Regions from separate parts of the Homo sapiens genome. Here region 1 is linked to region 2. Evidence: fine-mapped expression QTL. A gene starts in region 2. The other region holds a variant in brackets. All regions are shown on one strand. Distances are between the middles of the regions.

Region 1 (5,369 bases), 730 kb after region 2:
CTCACATGCACCAAACAGTGTGCTAGGTTCTTCATACATATTATCTCATGATATCCTCATAGCAACCCTGTAAAATAGGTGTTAATATAATTATAGTTAACATTTATTAAGTGCCAATGTGCTTCAGAGATTAAACCAAGCCTTTTATATGTGTTATTTCATTTGATGCTCCCCCAAGCCCTATAAAATAGTTTTGATTATCAATCATCCTCATTTAGCTGAAGAATAAACTGAGGCTTAGAGAGGTCAATTTGTTCCAAAGTTATGATAATTACTTTACTCAATGACAGGGGCAGGAATTGAACCCAGGGGCCTGCCTGCAAAGTCTGTACTTCCCAATGTCATGCTAGGCCATCATTCAGCATGGTATTTTTATTTATTGTAACTCAGACAAGCTCAGTCATCTGCCCAATGTCATGAGGCTAAGGAGTTGTGGCTCAGGATTTCCATCCATGGTCTGTCCTCCTGAATAGCATGCAGCACCACCTCGGAAGCAGGCATGGCTGCTCAAGAGGCAGGGCAGTTGTATTCCGAACCCCAGTGGATACTTACTGAGCCAGTACTAGTTATGCTAAAAACTACAGGGAATGCTTTGTCTTAGGGGATCTTCCTCTCTGGTGACGCAAAGAGAAGGGACCTGCTAGAGCCTATAAAAACAAAATCATCTGACCTGTAAAAGGCACAAGAGGGGATTTGCAATTGAACAGACCTGGTTTCCAATCCCCTCTCATCCAGGAGTATCTGTGGGCGCTGAAGTCATTTAGCTTTTTGGGCTGCTGGGCTTAGCTATAAAATGTATATAAAACTACCTATGTTGCTGTGTGGTAGAGTGAGTTGGACATTATACATCCAAGGATATTTCTAGATTCATTCCTCCAATAAATATTGTCTTCCACGTGCTAAGCCTTCCTCTAGGCCCTGAAGTACAATAGTGAGCAAAAGAGACAAAAATCTCAGTACTTACAAACTTACATTCTTCTAGAGAATAGGAGAATAAACACAAAACTCATGTATGTCTATGTCTCTATCTATGTCCACATCTATGTCTGTATCTATGTGATATAATAAGTGCCACAAGGAATACAAAGCAGGAAAAGGAAGAGAGGGTGCAAGGCTCAGAGAGGCAGGCTGCCATTTTATAGTGAGTGGTGAGAAACAGCTTCACTGAGAAAGTGTCAGTTGAGCAAAGCCTTTTGGAGAAGAACAGCTCATGGTGCTACGTGGAAGAATACTCCAGGCAGAAGGAGCAGCAAAGGCAAAGCGTCTGAGACAGGAACACACCTGGCATGTCTGAGGAACAGCTGAAGAAGAACAAGAGGCCAGTAGGTGGAAAAAGCTCACAGGGGGGAGGCAGGCGGGTCAGAGGGGGGGAGGCAGGCAGGGCATACAGAGGGTTTGGTGTCCTACTGTGACGATTTTGCCTTTTAATCAGCCTGAAATGGGATATAAAGTCTTAGATGGATGAAATAGGAATAACTTTTCTCGTTTCCTTCCTCGTCTGACTAAATTAACAGATGAAGGAATTGTCAAAATACAAAACCTTCTTCCTTACTGAACCCACTGACCTGGCAGGGCTTGTAAGGAAAAGAATTTGTTTCTAGAAGAGCTATTTAAATGTCCTGGACCTCTTCGAACCAGCAGAAATAGGAACCAGTTAACTTAACAGGCAAAGTAATAAGACTATACAGAGGAAACACATTTTCCTACTTTATGCCTTAATTTTAAGTAGAGTTACAAGATTTCCTGTAGGAATTCAGAGTGTTATCTTATTTTATGCCCCAAACTAGAAAGAGCGTTCCACTGGGTTTGCCAAGCTGTTAAGATGAAAATATCTGTTTGAGCACAGCATAATAGATGAGGTGTTTAAGGCATTTTCCTTTAGATTTTTGGTTAATCTTCTTTTAGTTAATTTTCTGAGATAAAATCCAGTTATAAATAACCTGAGGGTACCCTAACTGGGCTGTTCTGAGAATGGCAAATCTTTAATAGCCAGAACTTCTGCCTTTTAGAGATCTCTAGAGAAAGCAGTACTTTGAAAATTATCCAAAGCAAAATAAGTCGAAAGCATTAACAAATTAAAGACACTGGGAGAGAGAAGAAAGGGGCGAATGAGAAACTTCTTTGACATTCACAAGACAGCAGATCTTACCCTTGAAACTCCTTTAAAAAAAAAAAAAAAGAAGAGTCAAGCATTCACAATCTATTTGTTGATTAACAACAGAGAACTGGTGAGTTTCTGTCATAACAGAGTCTTGGAAAATTCATCCTTTTTCACAAAAGGAAAGGAGAGAAAATTCCAGACAAAACACCCAAAGTGCAGAAGAAAGGGCATGGCCATAAGCAGCCATCACTTAGACTAAAGTACAATGGGTACAATATTAAAATAAGAAGTTTTAGAACTGCTTTTAAAGATAGCTGGCGGAAGAATTAAAAAAAAAAAGAAAGGAAAAAAACCTTAAGTGTTTTCCGTTGTTAAAACGTAAAGCAAAATTTATAAAAGGATTATAAGGTAGCGTAGGTAAGAAAGTCATGTAAACTAGTTGAAATATCTAGAGTTCCTCAGCACAAAAAGAGCAGGTTGGCAGCTGTCCATCTGCAGTGTATATAGTACCATGGAGCCTGTTTATAAAAATAAGAGAGGGTGGGAGACCTAAAGTGGGTATAACTCAAAACAAAACAAATCTGTAGGACTAGATAAGGGAGGGTGATTATTCCCAGGTACTAATAGGCTAA[A/G]TGGTATCAGGAGAAAGAATTAGAACAAGTTTCTACTAAGCAATAAAAGTGTGGAAGAAACATTCTTTTAAAAAACGAATGAGATGCCCTAGAAACCTGTAAGTCAATAACCGTGTCACCAATTGTAGGATTATCCAGGACATGCAGAGCCTACACTGACAGGCCAGTTGAAAGGGTAGACACAGTTGTAATCGACTAGGAAATTGCCACTGTGGCTTAGAAAAACCAAGTCTTGTTTATGGGTTTGCCTCCATCTTTCTAAGCTTCTATAAAAGGTGGCTGGTGAAATGTACCGGGATTCTGACGATACTCACCTTGAGATAAGGGATATGAAGAGTCGGGAAGAGAGGCAAAGTGAATTCCATATAGCCAAGAACAGACAGAAGGAAAAACAGATTAAATAGCAATCAAAACACTGTCCTCCACTTAATGAAGTGGACTGTCAAACTGATTTGCTATTTTTTTGTTTTAATCATTCTAGCCAGGCAGATCAGACACTCGAGAATTAGAGAAATACTAATTTGGACTAGACACTGGAAATGTCTTATATACTGGGAGCATCATAAAGCTAGAGAAGGCTTACAAAGCAAGATGGCTGCCACTGAGATCAGCACACTGGGGTTTTTAACAGAAACCTATTACTTGATTTACTGGGAGTGGTAGAACCCTAAAGAAGCGGTGAACATCCAACACTGAAATTTGAGCTGGCTCTTCCTCAGAAAGGTTTCAGCGGCTTAATCTCATGCAATCTTGCAACATTCCTGAATTCAAACCCATGAAGTAGAGAGTCAGCCCGAGACCCTCTTCAGAATCCACCGAGTCTGCTGGGCAGGAAGAGCTAGCTTGTTGAGTTGTCCTGCTGCAAATGAAATAGTAACTTTCTCAGAAGCATAGGATATTGAAAGATTCCTTTAAGAGGCCAAGTCCTCAAAGGCATGTATGCAACGTGAAGTCATGGGGGCAGGCCTTCCTGGTTCCAATGCATGTTTTCACAGGGTTGTGTCTCTATGCTTGAAGGGGAGCTCTTGGGCCTATCTGAGGGATCATTTACCACTTGCTGTAGGAAAGTCCAGTGGAAATCACTTCTAGTGGTGAGTCTTGGCCAAATATACTCCTATGTAGAAGGCCTGTGTAGGAGGTTATGCTTGGAACAGTTGAGTAGATGTTCTGGCAACCTGTGATGGCCTTACTAAGTCATGACAGTCAGCCAAAAAAAAAAAAAAAAAAAAAAAGAAAAAAATCTTCTGGTCACAGACACAGTTGAAGGTGTTTCAATTTTTGTCCACTACCCATTGCCAACATGTCTTTAAGTCACTTGCCATCAGAATCTGTAGTGGAGACCATCCAGACATCTTTTGCCATGAATAACATCAAGTTCTTCCTGTATACCAGGCGCTGCAGTGAGCCCTGGCCAGGCACCACATCAGGCTCAGACAAGTCCATAATTTTTTGAAATCGACCCAGTTGGAGGTAGCAGAACCAGGACTGCATTCCAAGGGAGCGGGACTTGACAGCTTTAGCAACTGCGTCTGCTTTCCCTCCGCTCCTAGCCTCTCACTCACCCAAGATCATGTCTGTTCAGGATGCAGCTCTCTATTCAACTCCCCAACTCAGGGCCTCCTTTCCTGGCGGCTCAAATGGAAGCTTTTTTTTTTTTTTTTGAGACAGAGTCTCGCTCTGTCGCCCATGCTAGAGTGCAGCGGCGCCATCTCAGCTCACTGCAACCTTCACCTCCTGGGTTCAAGCGATTCTCCTGCCTCAGCCACTCGAGTAGCTGGGATTACAGACGTGTGCCACCATGCCCAGCTATTTTTTTTTTAAATAATTTTAGTAGAGACAGGGTTGGTCAGGCTGGTTTCAAACTCCTGACCTTGTGATCCGCCCACCCCGGCCTCCCAAAGTGCTGGGATTACAGGCATGAGCCACCGTGCTCAGCCAGAACCTTTCTTTAACTTGATTACTGTGGGTAGTTACACATTTTCAATGGCCACTAGAATGAAGTCTTCAGAGACACTAGGACCTGACCTGTGATTGCCCCTCGCTATACTCCCAGGGACTAAGCACATGGCCTGGCAAAAAAACATAGCCTTCCAAATATCTCGTTTTATTTTACTATTTTATTTACTTTTTGAGGCAGGGTCTCTCTGTTGCCCAGGCTGGAGTACAGTGGTACAATAACAGCTCTCTGCAGCCTTGAACTTCCGGCCTCAAGCAATCGTCCTCCTCAGTCTCCCAAGTAGCTGGGATGACAGGCATGCAACATCATGCCCAGCTGAGTTTTAAAAAATATTTTATAGAGATGAGGTGTCAGTATGTTCCCCAGGCTAGCCTCCAACTCCTAGCCCCAATTAATCCTCCCACCTCAGCCTCCAAAAGTGCTGGGATTACAAGGTATAAGCCACTGTGCCTGGCCCTCCAAGTATTTAAAATGAATGGATATCTCCCAAAGACTAAGCTGTAAATGGCTGAACAACTTACATTCTTACCACATCTGCTAGATGGTAAATATTTGTGCTGCTATTTAAAAGAAAAAAAAAATCAGCATAAGGAGATAGTCAACTTGAAGGGTGATGACCAGATCTCTGATAATAGGAGCTAGTCCCTTCTTAATTCCAATTAGGAGCTACACGTTGGTA
Region 2 (5,369 bases):
TAAATAAACCATAAAAATGTGCAGATAATAATATATTTAGCTGCCCAAACATGGGCATTTAATTTCTAGAAATGATATATAACAATGTAACAATTAGATACTCAGCCATGAATGTGTATGGCACAGTCTTCATCATTAGCAAACTTTGTGTATAAAATATTATTTATTATTTATTATAATACTGCTTTCAGAGGCAATGATCATACCTTACAGCTTTTAACACAAATATGATGCAAAAGGATTAAAAGTATATCATAAACAAACAATAAATTCTTTCTAAATACACTTAAATTCATATTTTACATGAAAAATATAAACTTCCTACATTTGTGACTACTGACTTTTAAAAAGACCTAGAAAACTATTGTTACGGGCAATGTTAAATGACATAATGCTTATGTAATGGAAAGTGTGGATTTTCCTCTAAATAAACTATAATCCCTTAACTTCATTACTAGGGAAAATATTGTTAAAGAGAAGGAAAGCAAGGGAATTCTGCTAGGTTGCATAAATATTGACATAATCTTCACTCTTTCTTCCCCAAACTGGTAATAGACATAGTTTATTCCACCCAACAAAATGCTCTTATAAGACCAAAACTACCCTTATTAACAACTTCTCTGCAGTCACGATGAAAAGAAACACTACTTGTCTGAAAAATACCGACAGCGCTGCCCTTTTCAGATTAGGGTGTGCCTACGAATCTTTTGGGAAGTCTTCCATTAAGGATTCCTGGGTTTGCTGAAACTGAAGTCTACTAGGATCAGAGAAATTAACACAGGTCTAATATGGTGCAAGGAACGAGTGAGAGACACCTGAGGTTATAAATAGCAAAGCATGCTGCGGGGTGGGGAAGACCATTCTGAAGTGCAATGTTCAAGACGCTGGCTTAATATATGACTAAGTGTCAGAAGTCAGGTTTTCTGAGAATTACTTTCCAGATAAACAACTTTATAGCACTGCACTTAATCTTACTTACTAGAGACATCTCATTTATCACTGAATTACAAGTAACTTTAATCCTATTGATATTGCCATAAAGCCCGTTGAAAATCCATCCTGGCACTTTTAAAGGGTTTGGGGCCCTGTTACATGGGGATCCTCTTGCAAAGGTCTCAGCCAGAAATTACACCCCGAGGGTGTCTGTATCCCCTGGCCTCTTTGTCAACAATCAAGGAGAAGAGGAGGGGCAAAAATGATCTCTGCATCTGCCAGCACTTTCTTCGGCCCCTTTCCTATAGGGTCGGGTTCTCCCACTTCAGTCAAACTAACTTTGTGTGTCTCTTTCCTCCTCCCACACTGGGTAACCAGCTGCTTTTCACTTCATCGACAAAACTGGACACGGATCAATTTCAACTGACCTTTGCCGAAAGGTGGCGCTGTTGAGGTAAAAACCAACTCGCTCCAACAATAGTTTCCACTCTTCGATCCTTTTGCAGGCTTTTCAGAATTTTTTTTTTTTTTTAATGCACCCTCCTAGCGTCTCCCCCTTCTCATAAAGTAAAATAAATACGATTAAAAACACCAAATGCATTTCATTAATTGAAGGAATCAACAGTCCCAACTTCTAAGCAGACGGGCTGGTCTTCCAAAGGCTGGGTCGGTTTCAGGAGCTTTCTCTCCAAATAAATCTCTGCTTCTTCGACTTGCCTATCGCTTTAAAATCTTAGAAACAGAGTTAGTTGTTGGTTTCCTTCTTTTTTCTTTTTCTTTTTTATTTCTTTTTTGCATAAACTTTTAGAGAATCAATCTAGAAATTTGAACTACTTATTAGCATTTGCAACTGGGGGTGGGGGGAGCAGCCTCCCCCACCCCACCCCCCACTCTGCGTTTCCGGACTAGTTCCAGAAACCGCGGTTTAAAATTTAACCCTTCGAGGGTAGCTGGTGAGGGCTGGGGTATTGTTTTTCCCCCTTGCTCCCTGCCACGATCAAGTCCGAAATAATTAAAGGAAACGTAAAAGTGCAAAGGGCGCGCCTGACCCTGATAAACAGAGGTCAGATTTCGTAAGGGGACGGGTGAGTGTGAGTGTGTGTGTGTTTGTGTGTGTGTGTGTAAGAGAGAGAGAGAGCGAGCGCGCAATATGAGTCTCAAAGGCCAAACTCCGGCCAGTCAGGAGCCGGAAGGCTGAGCCCGGCTGACCTGACTTTGAGCTTCCCCGGAGTTATCTCGCATAGGCGCTCGCTCTGTCCAAGGGCACGCGACGCCAGCGGGCAGCCGGTCTCCGTGAAGAATGGCCTCTAAACAACTTATTTTACCTCGTTGTAAAGAGAGGGATAAAATGGGCTTTCCCTCTCCACGGATGCCCAGCCTTCTGGGCAGGCGCATGGCCGGGCGGCGCCCAGCCCGCAGCCCCGATCCGGACACCCCACTGCATCCCTCCCTTCCCGGTCCCTTCCCCGCACGGGCGCCCGAGAGACGGACAAAGAGTTGGGGCCAAGTTTGAGCGCCGGGCACGGCCAGGCTCAGGGAAGGAAGGTCCCCGGCAGACACCTGGGTACCAGAGTTGGTGCGAGGAGGAAAAGCTGGGAGGCGAATTCACAATCCTGGGGGTGGAGGGCAGGCAGGGGAGGGGAATCAGGCCAATCCCAGCCGAGTGAGCCCCCAGCGAGCTGGGGCTCCGGATGGGAGGCCTGTCTCGCGCTCCAAAGAAAAGCAAACCGCCCTCCCAGGTCCGCCCGGATTGCCGAAGCCCCTCTGGAAAAACTCCTTCCCCTCTTACACCAAACTTTGCGCCGGGCCTCGTTCCCTCCCGGGTAGGCAGCGGCGCAGGAAGGGTTAAGCCAGCCCGTCCCAGCTGACAGTCAGCTGATTGGGCCCTGATTGACAGCTCCGAAAAGTTTCCTTGTTTCTATACTATTATGCTAATCGCGGCCGCTCTCGCCGCCTCCCATTGGCCCGGAGTGCCAGTCAATTTCTCATTTGGACCTGACGTCACGAGTGCTATAAAACTCAGCAATTGCTTTAAACTCTTCTTGCTGGATCAGAGGCTTTAAAATCTTTTTTCATCTTCTAGCTGTAGCTCGGGCTGCTTGTCGGCTTGGCCTCCCCCTCCCCCCTTTGCTCTCTGCCTCGTCTTTCCCCAGGACTTCGCTATTTTGCTTTTTTAAAAAAAGGCAAGAAAGAACTAAACTCCCCCCTCCCTCTCCTCCAGTCGGGCTGCACCTCTGCCTTGCACTTTGCACAGAGGTAGAGAGCGCGCGAGGGAGAGAGAGGAAAGAAAAAAAATAATAAAGAGAGCCAAGCAGAAGAGGAGGCGAGAAGCATGAAGTGTTAACTCCCCCGTGCCAAGGCCCGCGCCGCCCGGACAGACGCCCGCCGCGCCTCCAGCCCCGAGCGGACGCCGCGCGCGCCCTGCCTGCAGCCCGGGCCGGCGAGGCGAGCCCTTCCTTATGCAAAGCGCGCAGCGGAGCGGCGAGCGGGGGACGCCGCGCACCGGGCCGGGCTCCTCCAGCTTCGCCGCCGCAGCCACCACCGCCGCCACCGCAGCTCGCGGAGGATCTTCCCGAGCCTGAAGCCGCCGGCTCGGCGCGCAAGGAGGCGAGCGAGCAAGGAGGGGCCGGGGCGAGCGAGGGAGCACATTGGCGTGAGCAGGGGGGAGGGAGGGCGGGCGCGGGGGGCGCGGGCAGGGCGGGGGGGTGTGTGTGTGAGCGCGCTCGGAGGTTTCGGGCCAGCCACCGCCGCGCAAGCTAGAAGCGCCCCAGCCCGGCAAGCTGGCTCACCCGCTGGCCACCCAGCACAGCCCGCTGGCCCCTCTCCTGCAGCCCATCTGGCGGAGCGGCGGCGGCGGCGGCGGCGGCGGCAGGAGAATGGCATCAGAACTGGCAATGAGCAACTCCGACCTGCCCACCAGTCCCCTGGCCATGGAATATGTTAATGACTTCGATCTGATGAAGTTTGAAGTGAAAAAGGAACCGGTGGAGACCGACCGCATCATCAGCCAGTGCGGCCGTCTCATCGCCGGGGGCTCGCTGTCCTCCACCCCCATGAGCACGCCGTGCAGCTCGGTGCCCCCTTCCCCCAGCTTCTCGGCGCCCAGCCCGGGCTCGGGCAGCGAGCAGAAGGCGCACCTGGAAGACTACTACTGGATGACCGGCTACCCGCAGCAGCTGAACCCCGAGGCGCTGGGCTTCAGCCCCGAGGACGCGGTCGAGGCGCTCATCAGCAACAGCCACCAGCTCCAGGGCGGCTTCGATGGCTACGCGCGCGGGGCGCAGCAGCTGGCCGCGGCGGCCGGGGCCGGTGCCGGCGCCTCCTTGGGCGGCAGCGGCGAGGAGATGGGCCCCGCCGCCGCCGTGGTGTCCGCCGTGATCGCCGCGGCCGCCGCGCAGAGCGGCGCGGGCCCGCACTACCACCACCACCACCACCACGCCGCCGGCCACCACCACCACCCGACGGCCGGCGCGCCCGGCGCCGCGGGCAGCGCGGCCGCCTCGGCCGGTGGCGCTGGGGGCGCGGGCGGCGGTGGCCCGGCCAGCGCTGGGGGCGGCGGCGGCGGCGGCGGCGGCGGAGGCGGCGGGGGCGCGGCGGGGGCGGGGGGCGCCCTGCACCCGCACCACGCCGCCGGCGGCCTGCACTTCGACGACCGCTTCTCCGACGAGCAGCTGGTGACCATGTCTGTGCGCGAGCTGAACCGGCAGCTGCGCGGGGTCAGCAAGGAGGAGGTGATCCGGCTGAAGCAGAAGAGGCGGACCCTGAAAAACCGCGGCTATGCCCAGTCCTGCCGCTTCAAGAGGGTGCAGCAGAGACACGTCCTGGAGTCGGAGAAGAACCAGCTGCTGCAGCAAGTCGACCACCTCAAGCAGGAGATCTCCAGGCTGGTGCGCGAGAGGGACGCGTACAAGGAGAAATACGAGAAGTTGGTGAGCAGCGGCTTCCGAGAAAACGGCTCGAGCAGCGACAACCCGTCCTCTCCCGAGTTTTTCATGTGAGTCTGACACGCGATTCCAGCTAGCCACCCTGATAAGTGCTCCGCGGGGGTCCGGCTCGGGTGTGGGCTTGCTAGTTCTAGAGCCATGCTCGCCACCACCTCACCACCCCCACCCCCACCGAGTTTGGCCCCCTTGGCCCCCTACACACACACAAACCCGCACGCACACACCACACACACACACACACACACACACACACCCCACACCCTGCTCGAGTTTGTGGTGGTGGTGGCTGTTTTAAACTGGGGAGGGAATGGGTGTCTGGCTCATGGATTGCCAATCTGAAATTCTCCATAACTTGCTAGCTTGTTTTTTTTTTTTTTTTACACCCCCCCGCCCCACCCCCGGACTTGCACAATGTTCAATGATCTCAGCAGAGTTCTTCATGTGAAACGTTGATCACCTTTGAAGCCTGCATCATTCACATATTTTTTCTTC

Alleles and levels. Alleles are on the strand shown, and positions count from the first base shown. SD is a standard deviation of normalised expression in the study named.
For the expression in skeletal muscle of the gene that starts at base 2,975 in region 2, G is the high allele of the variant in region 1 and A is the other (large effect, 0.78 SD a copy in FUSION).

Evidence for each region. PIP is the estimated chance that this variant, and not a neighbour inherited with it, causes the effect.
Region 1: its variant is fine-mapped to the expression of MAF in skeletal muscle (FUSION, PIP 0.91).

What each region holds. Positions count from the first base shown.
Region 1 is chr16:78,873,281-78,878,649 of GRCh38, reverse strand. All of the region lies in intron 8 of WWOX (WW domain containing oxidoreductase), which reads right to left. Among named protein-coding and RNA genes, the nearest start is that of WWOX-AS2, 380 kb to the right of the region's middle. The variant A/G (reference allele first, on the strand shown) is at 2,734.
Region 2 is chr16:79,598,343-79,603,711 of GRCh38, reverse strand. MAF (MAF bZIP transcription factor) reads left to right here and starts at 2,975. Exons shown (of 2, transcript NM_005360.5): 1 at 2,975-4,927. The coding sequence starts at 3,810. LOC101928230 (a long non-coding RNA gene) reads right to left here and starts at 2,825. Exons shown (of 3, transcript NR_188556.1): 1 at 2,723-2,825; 2 at 1,362-1,665. RefSeq lists an enhancer at 2,766-3,060.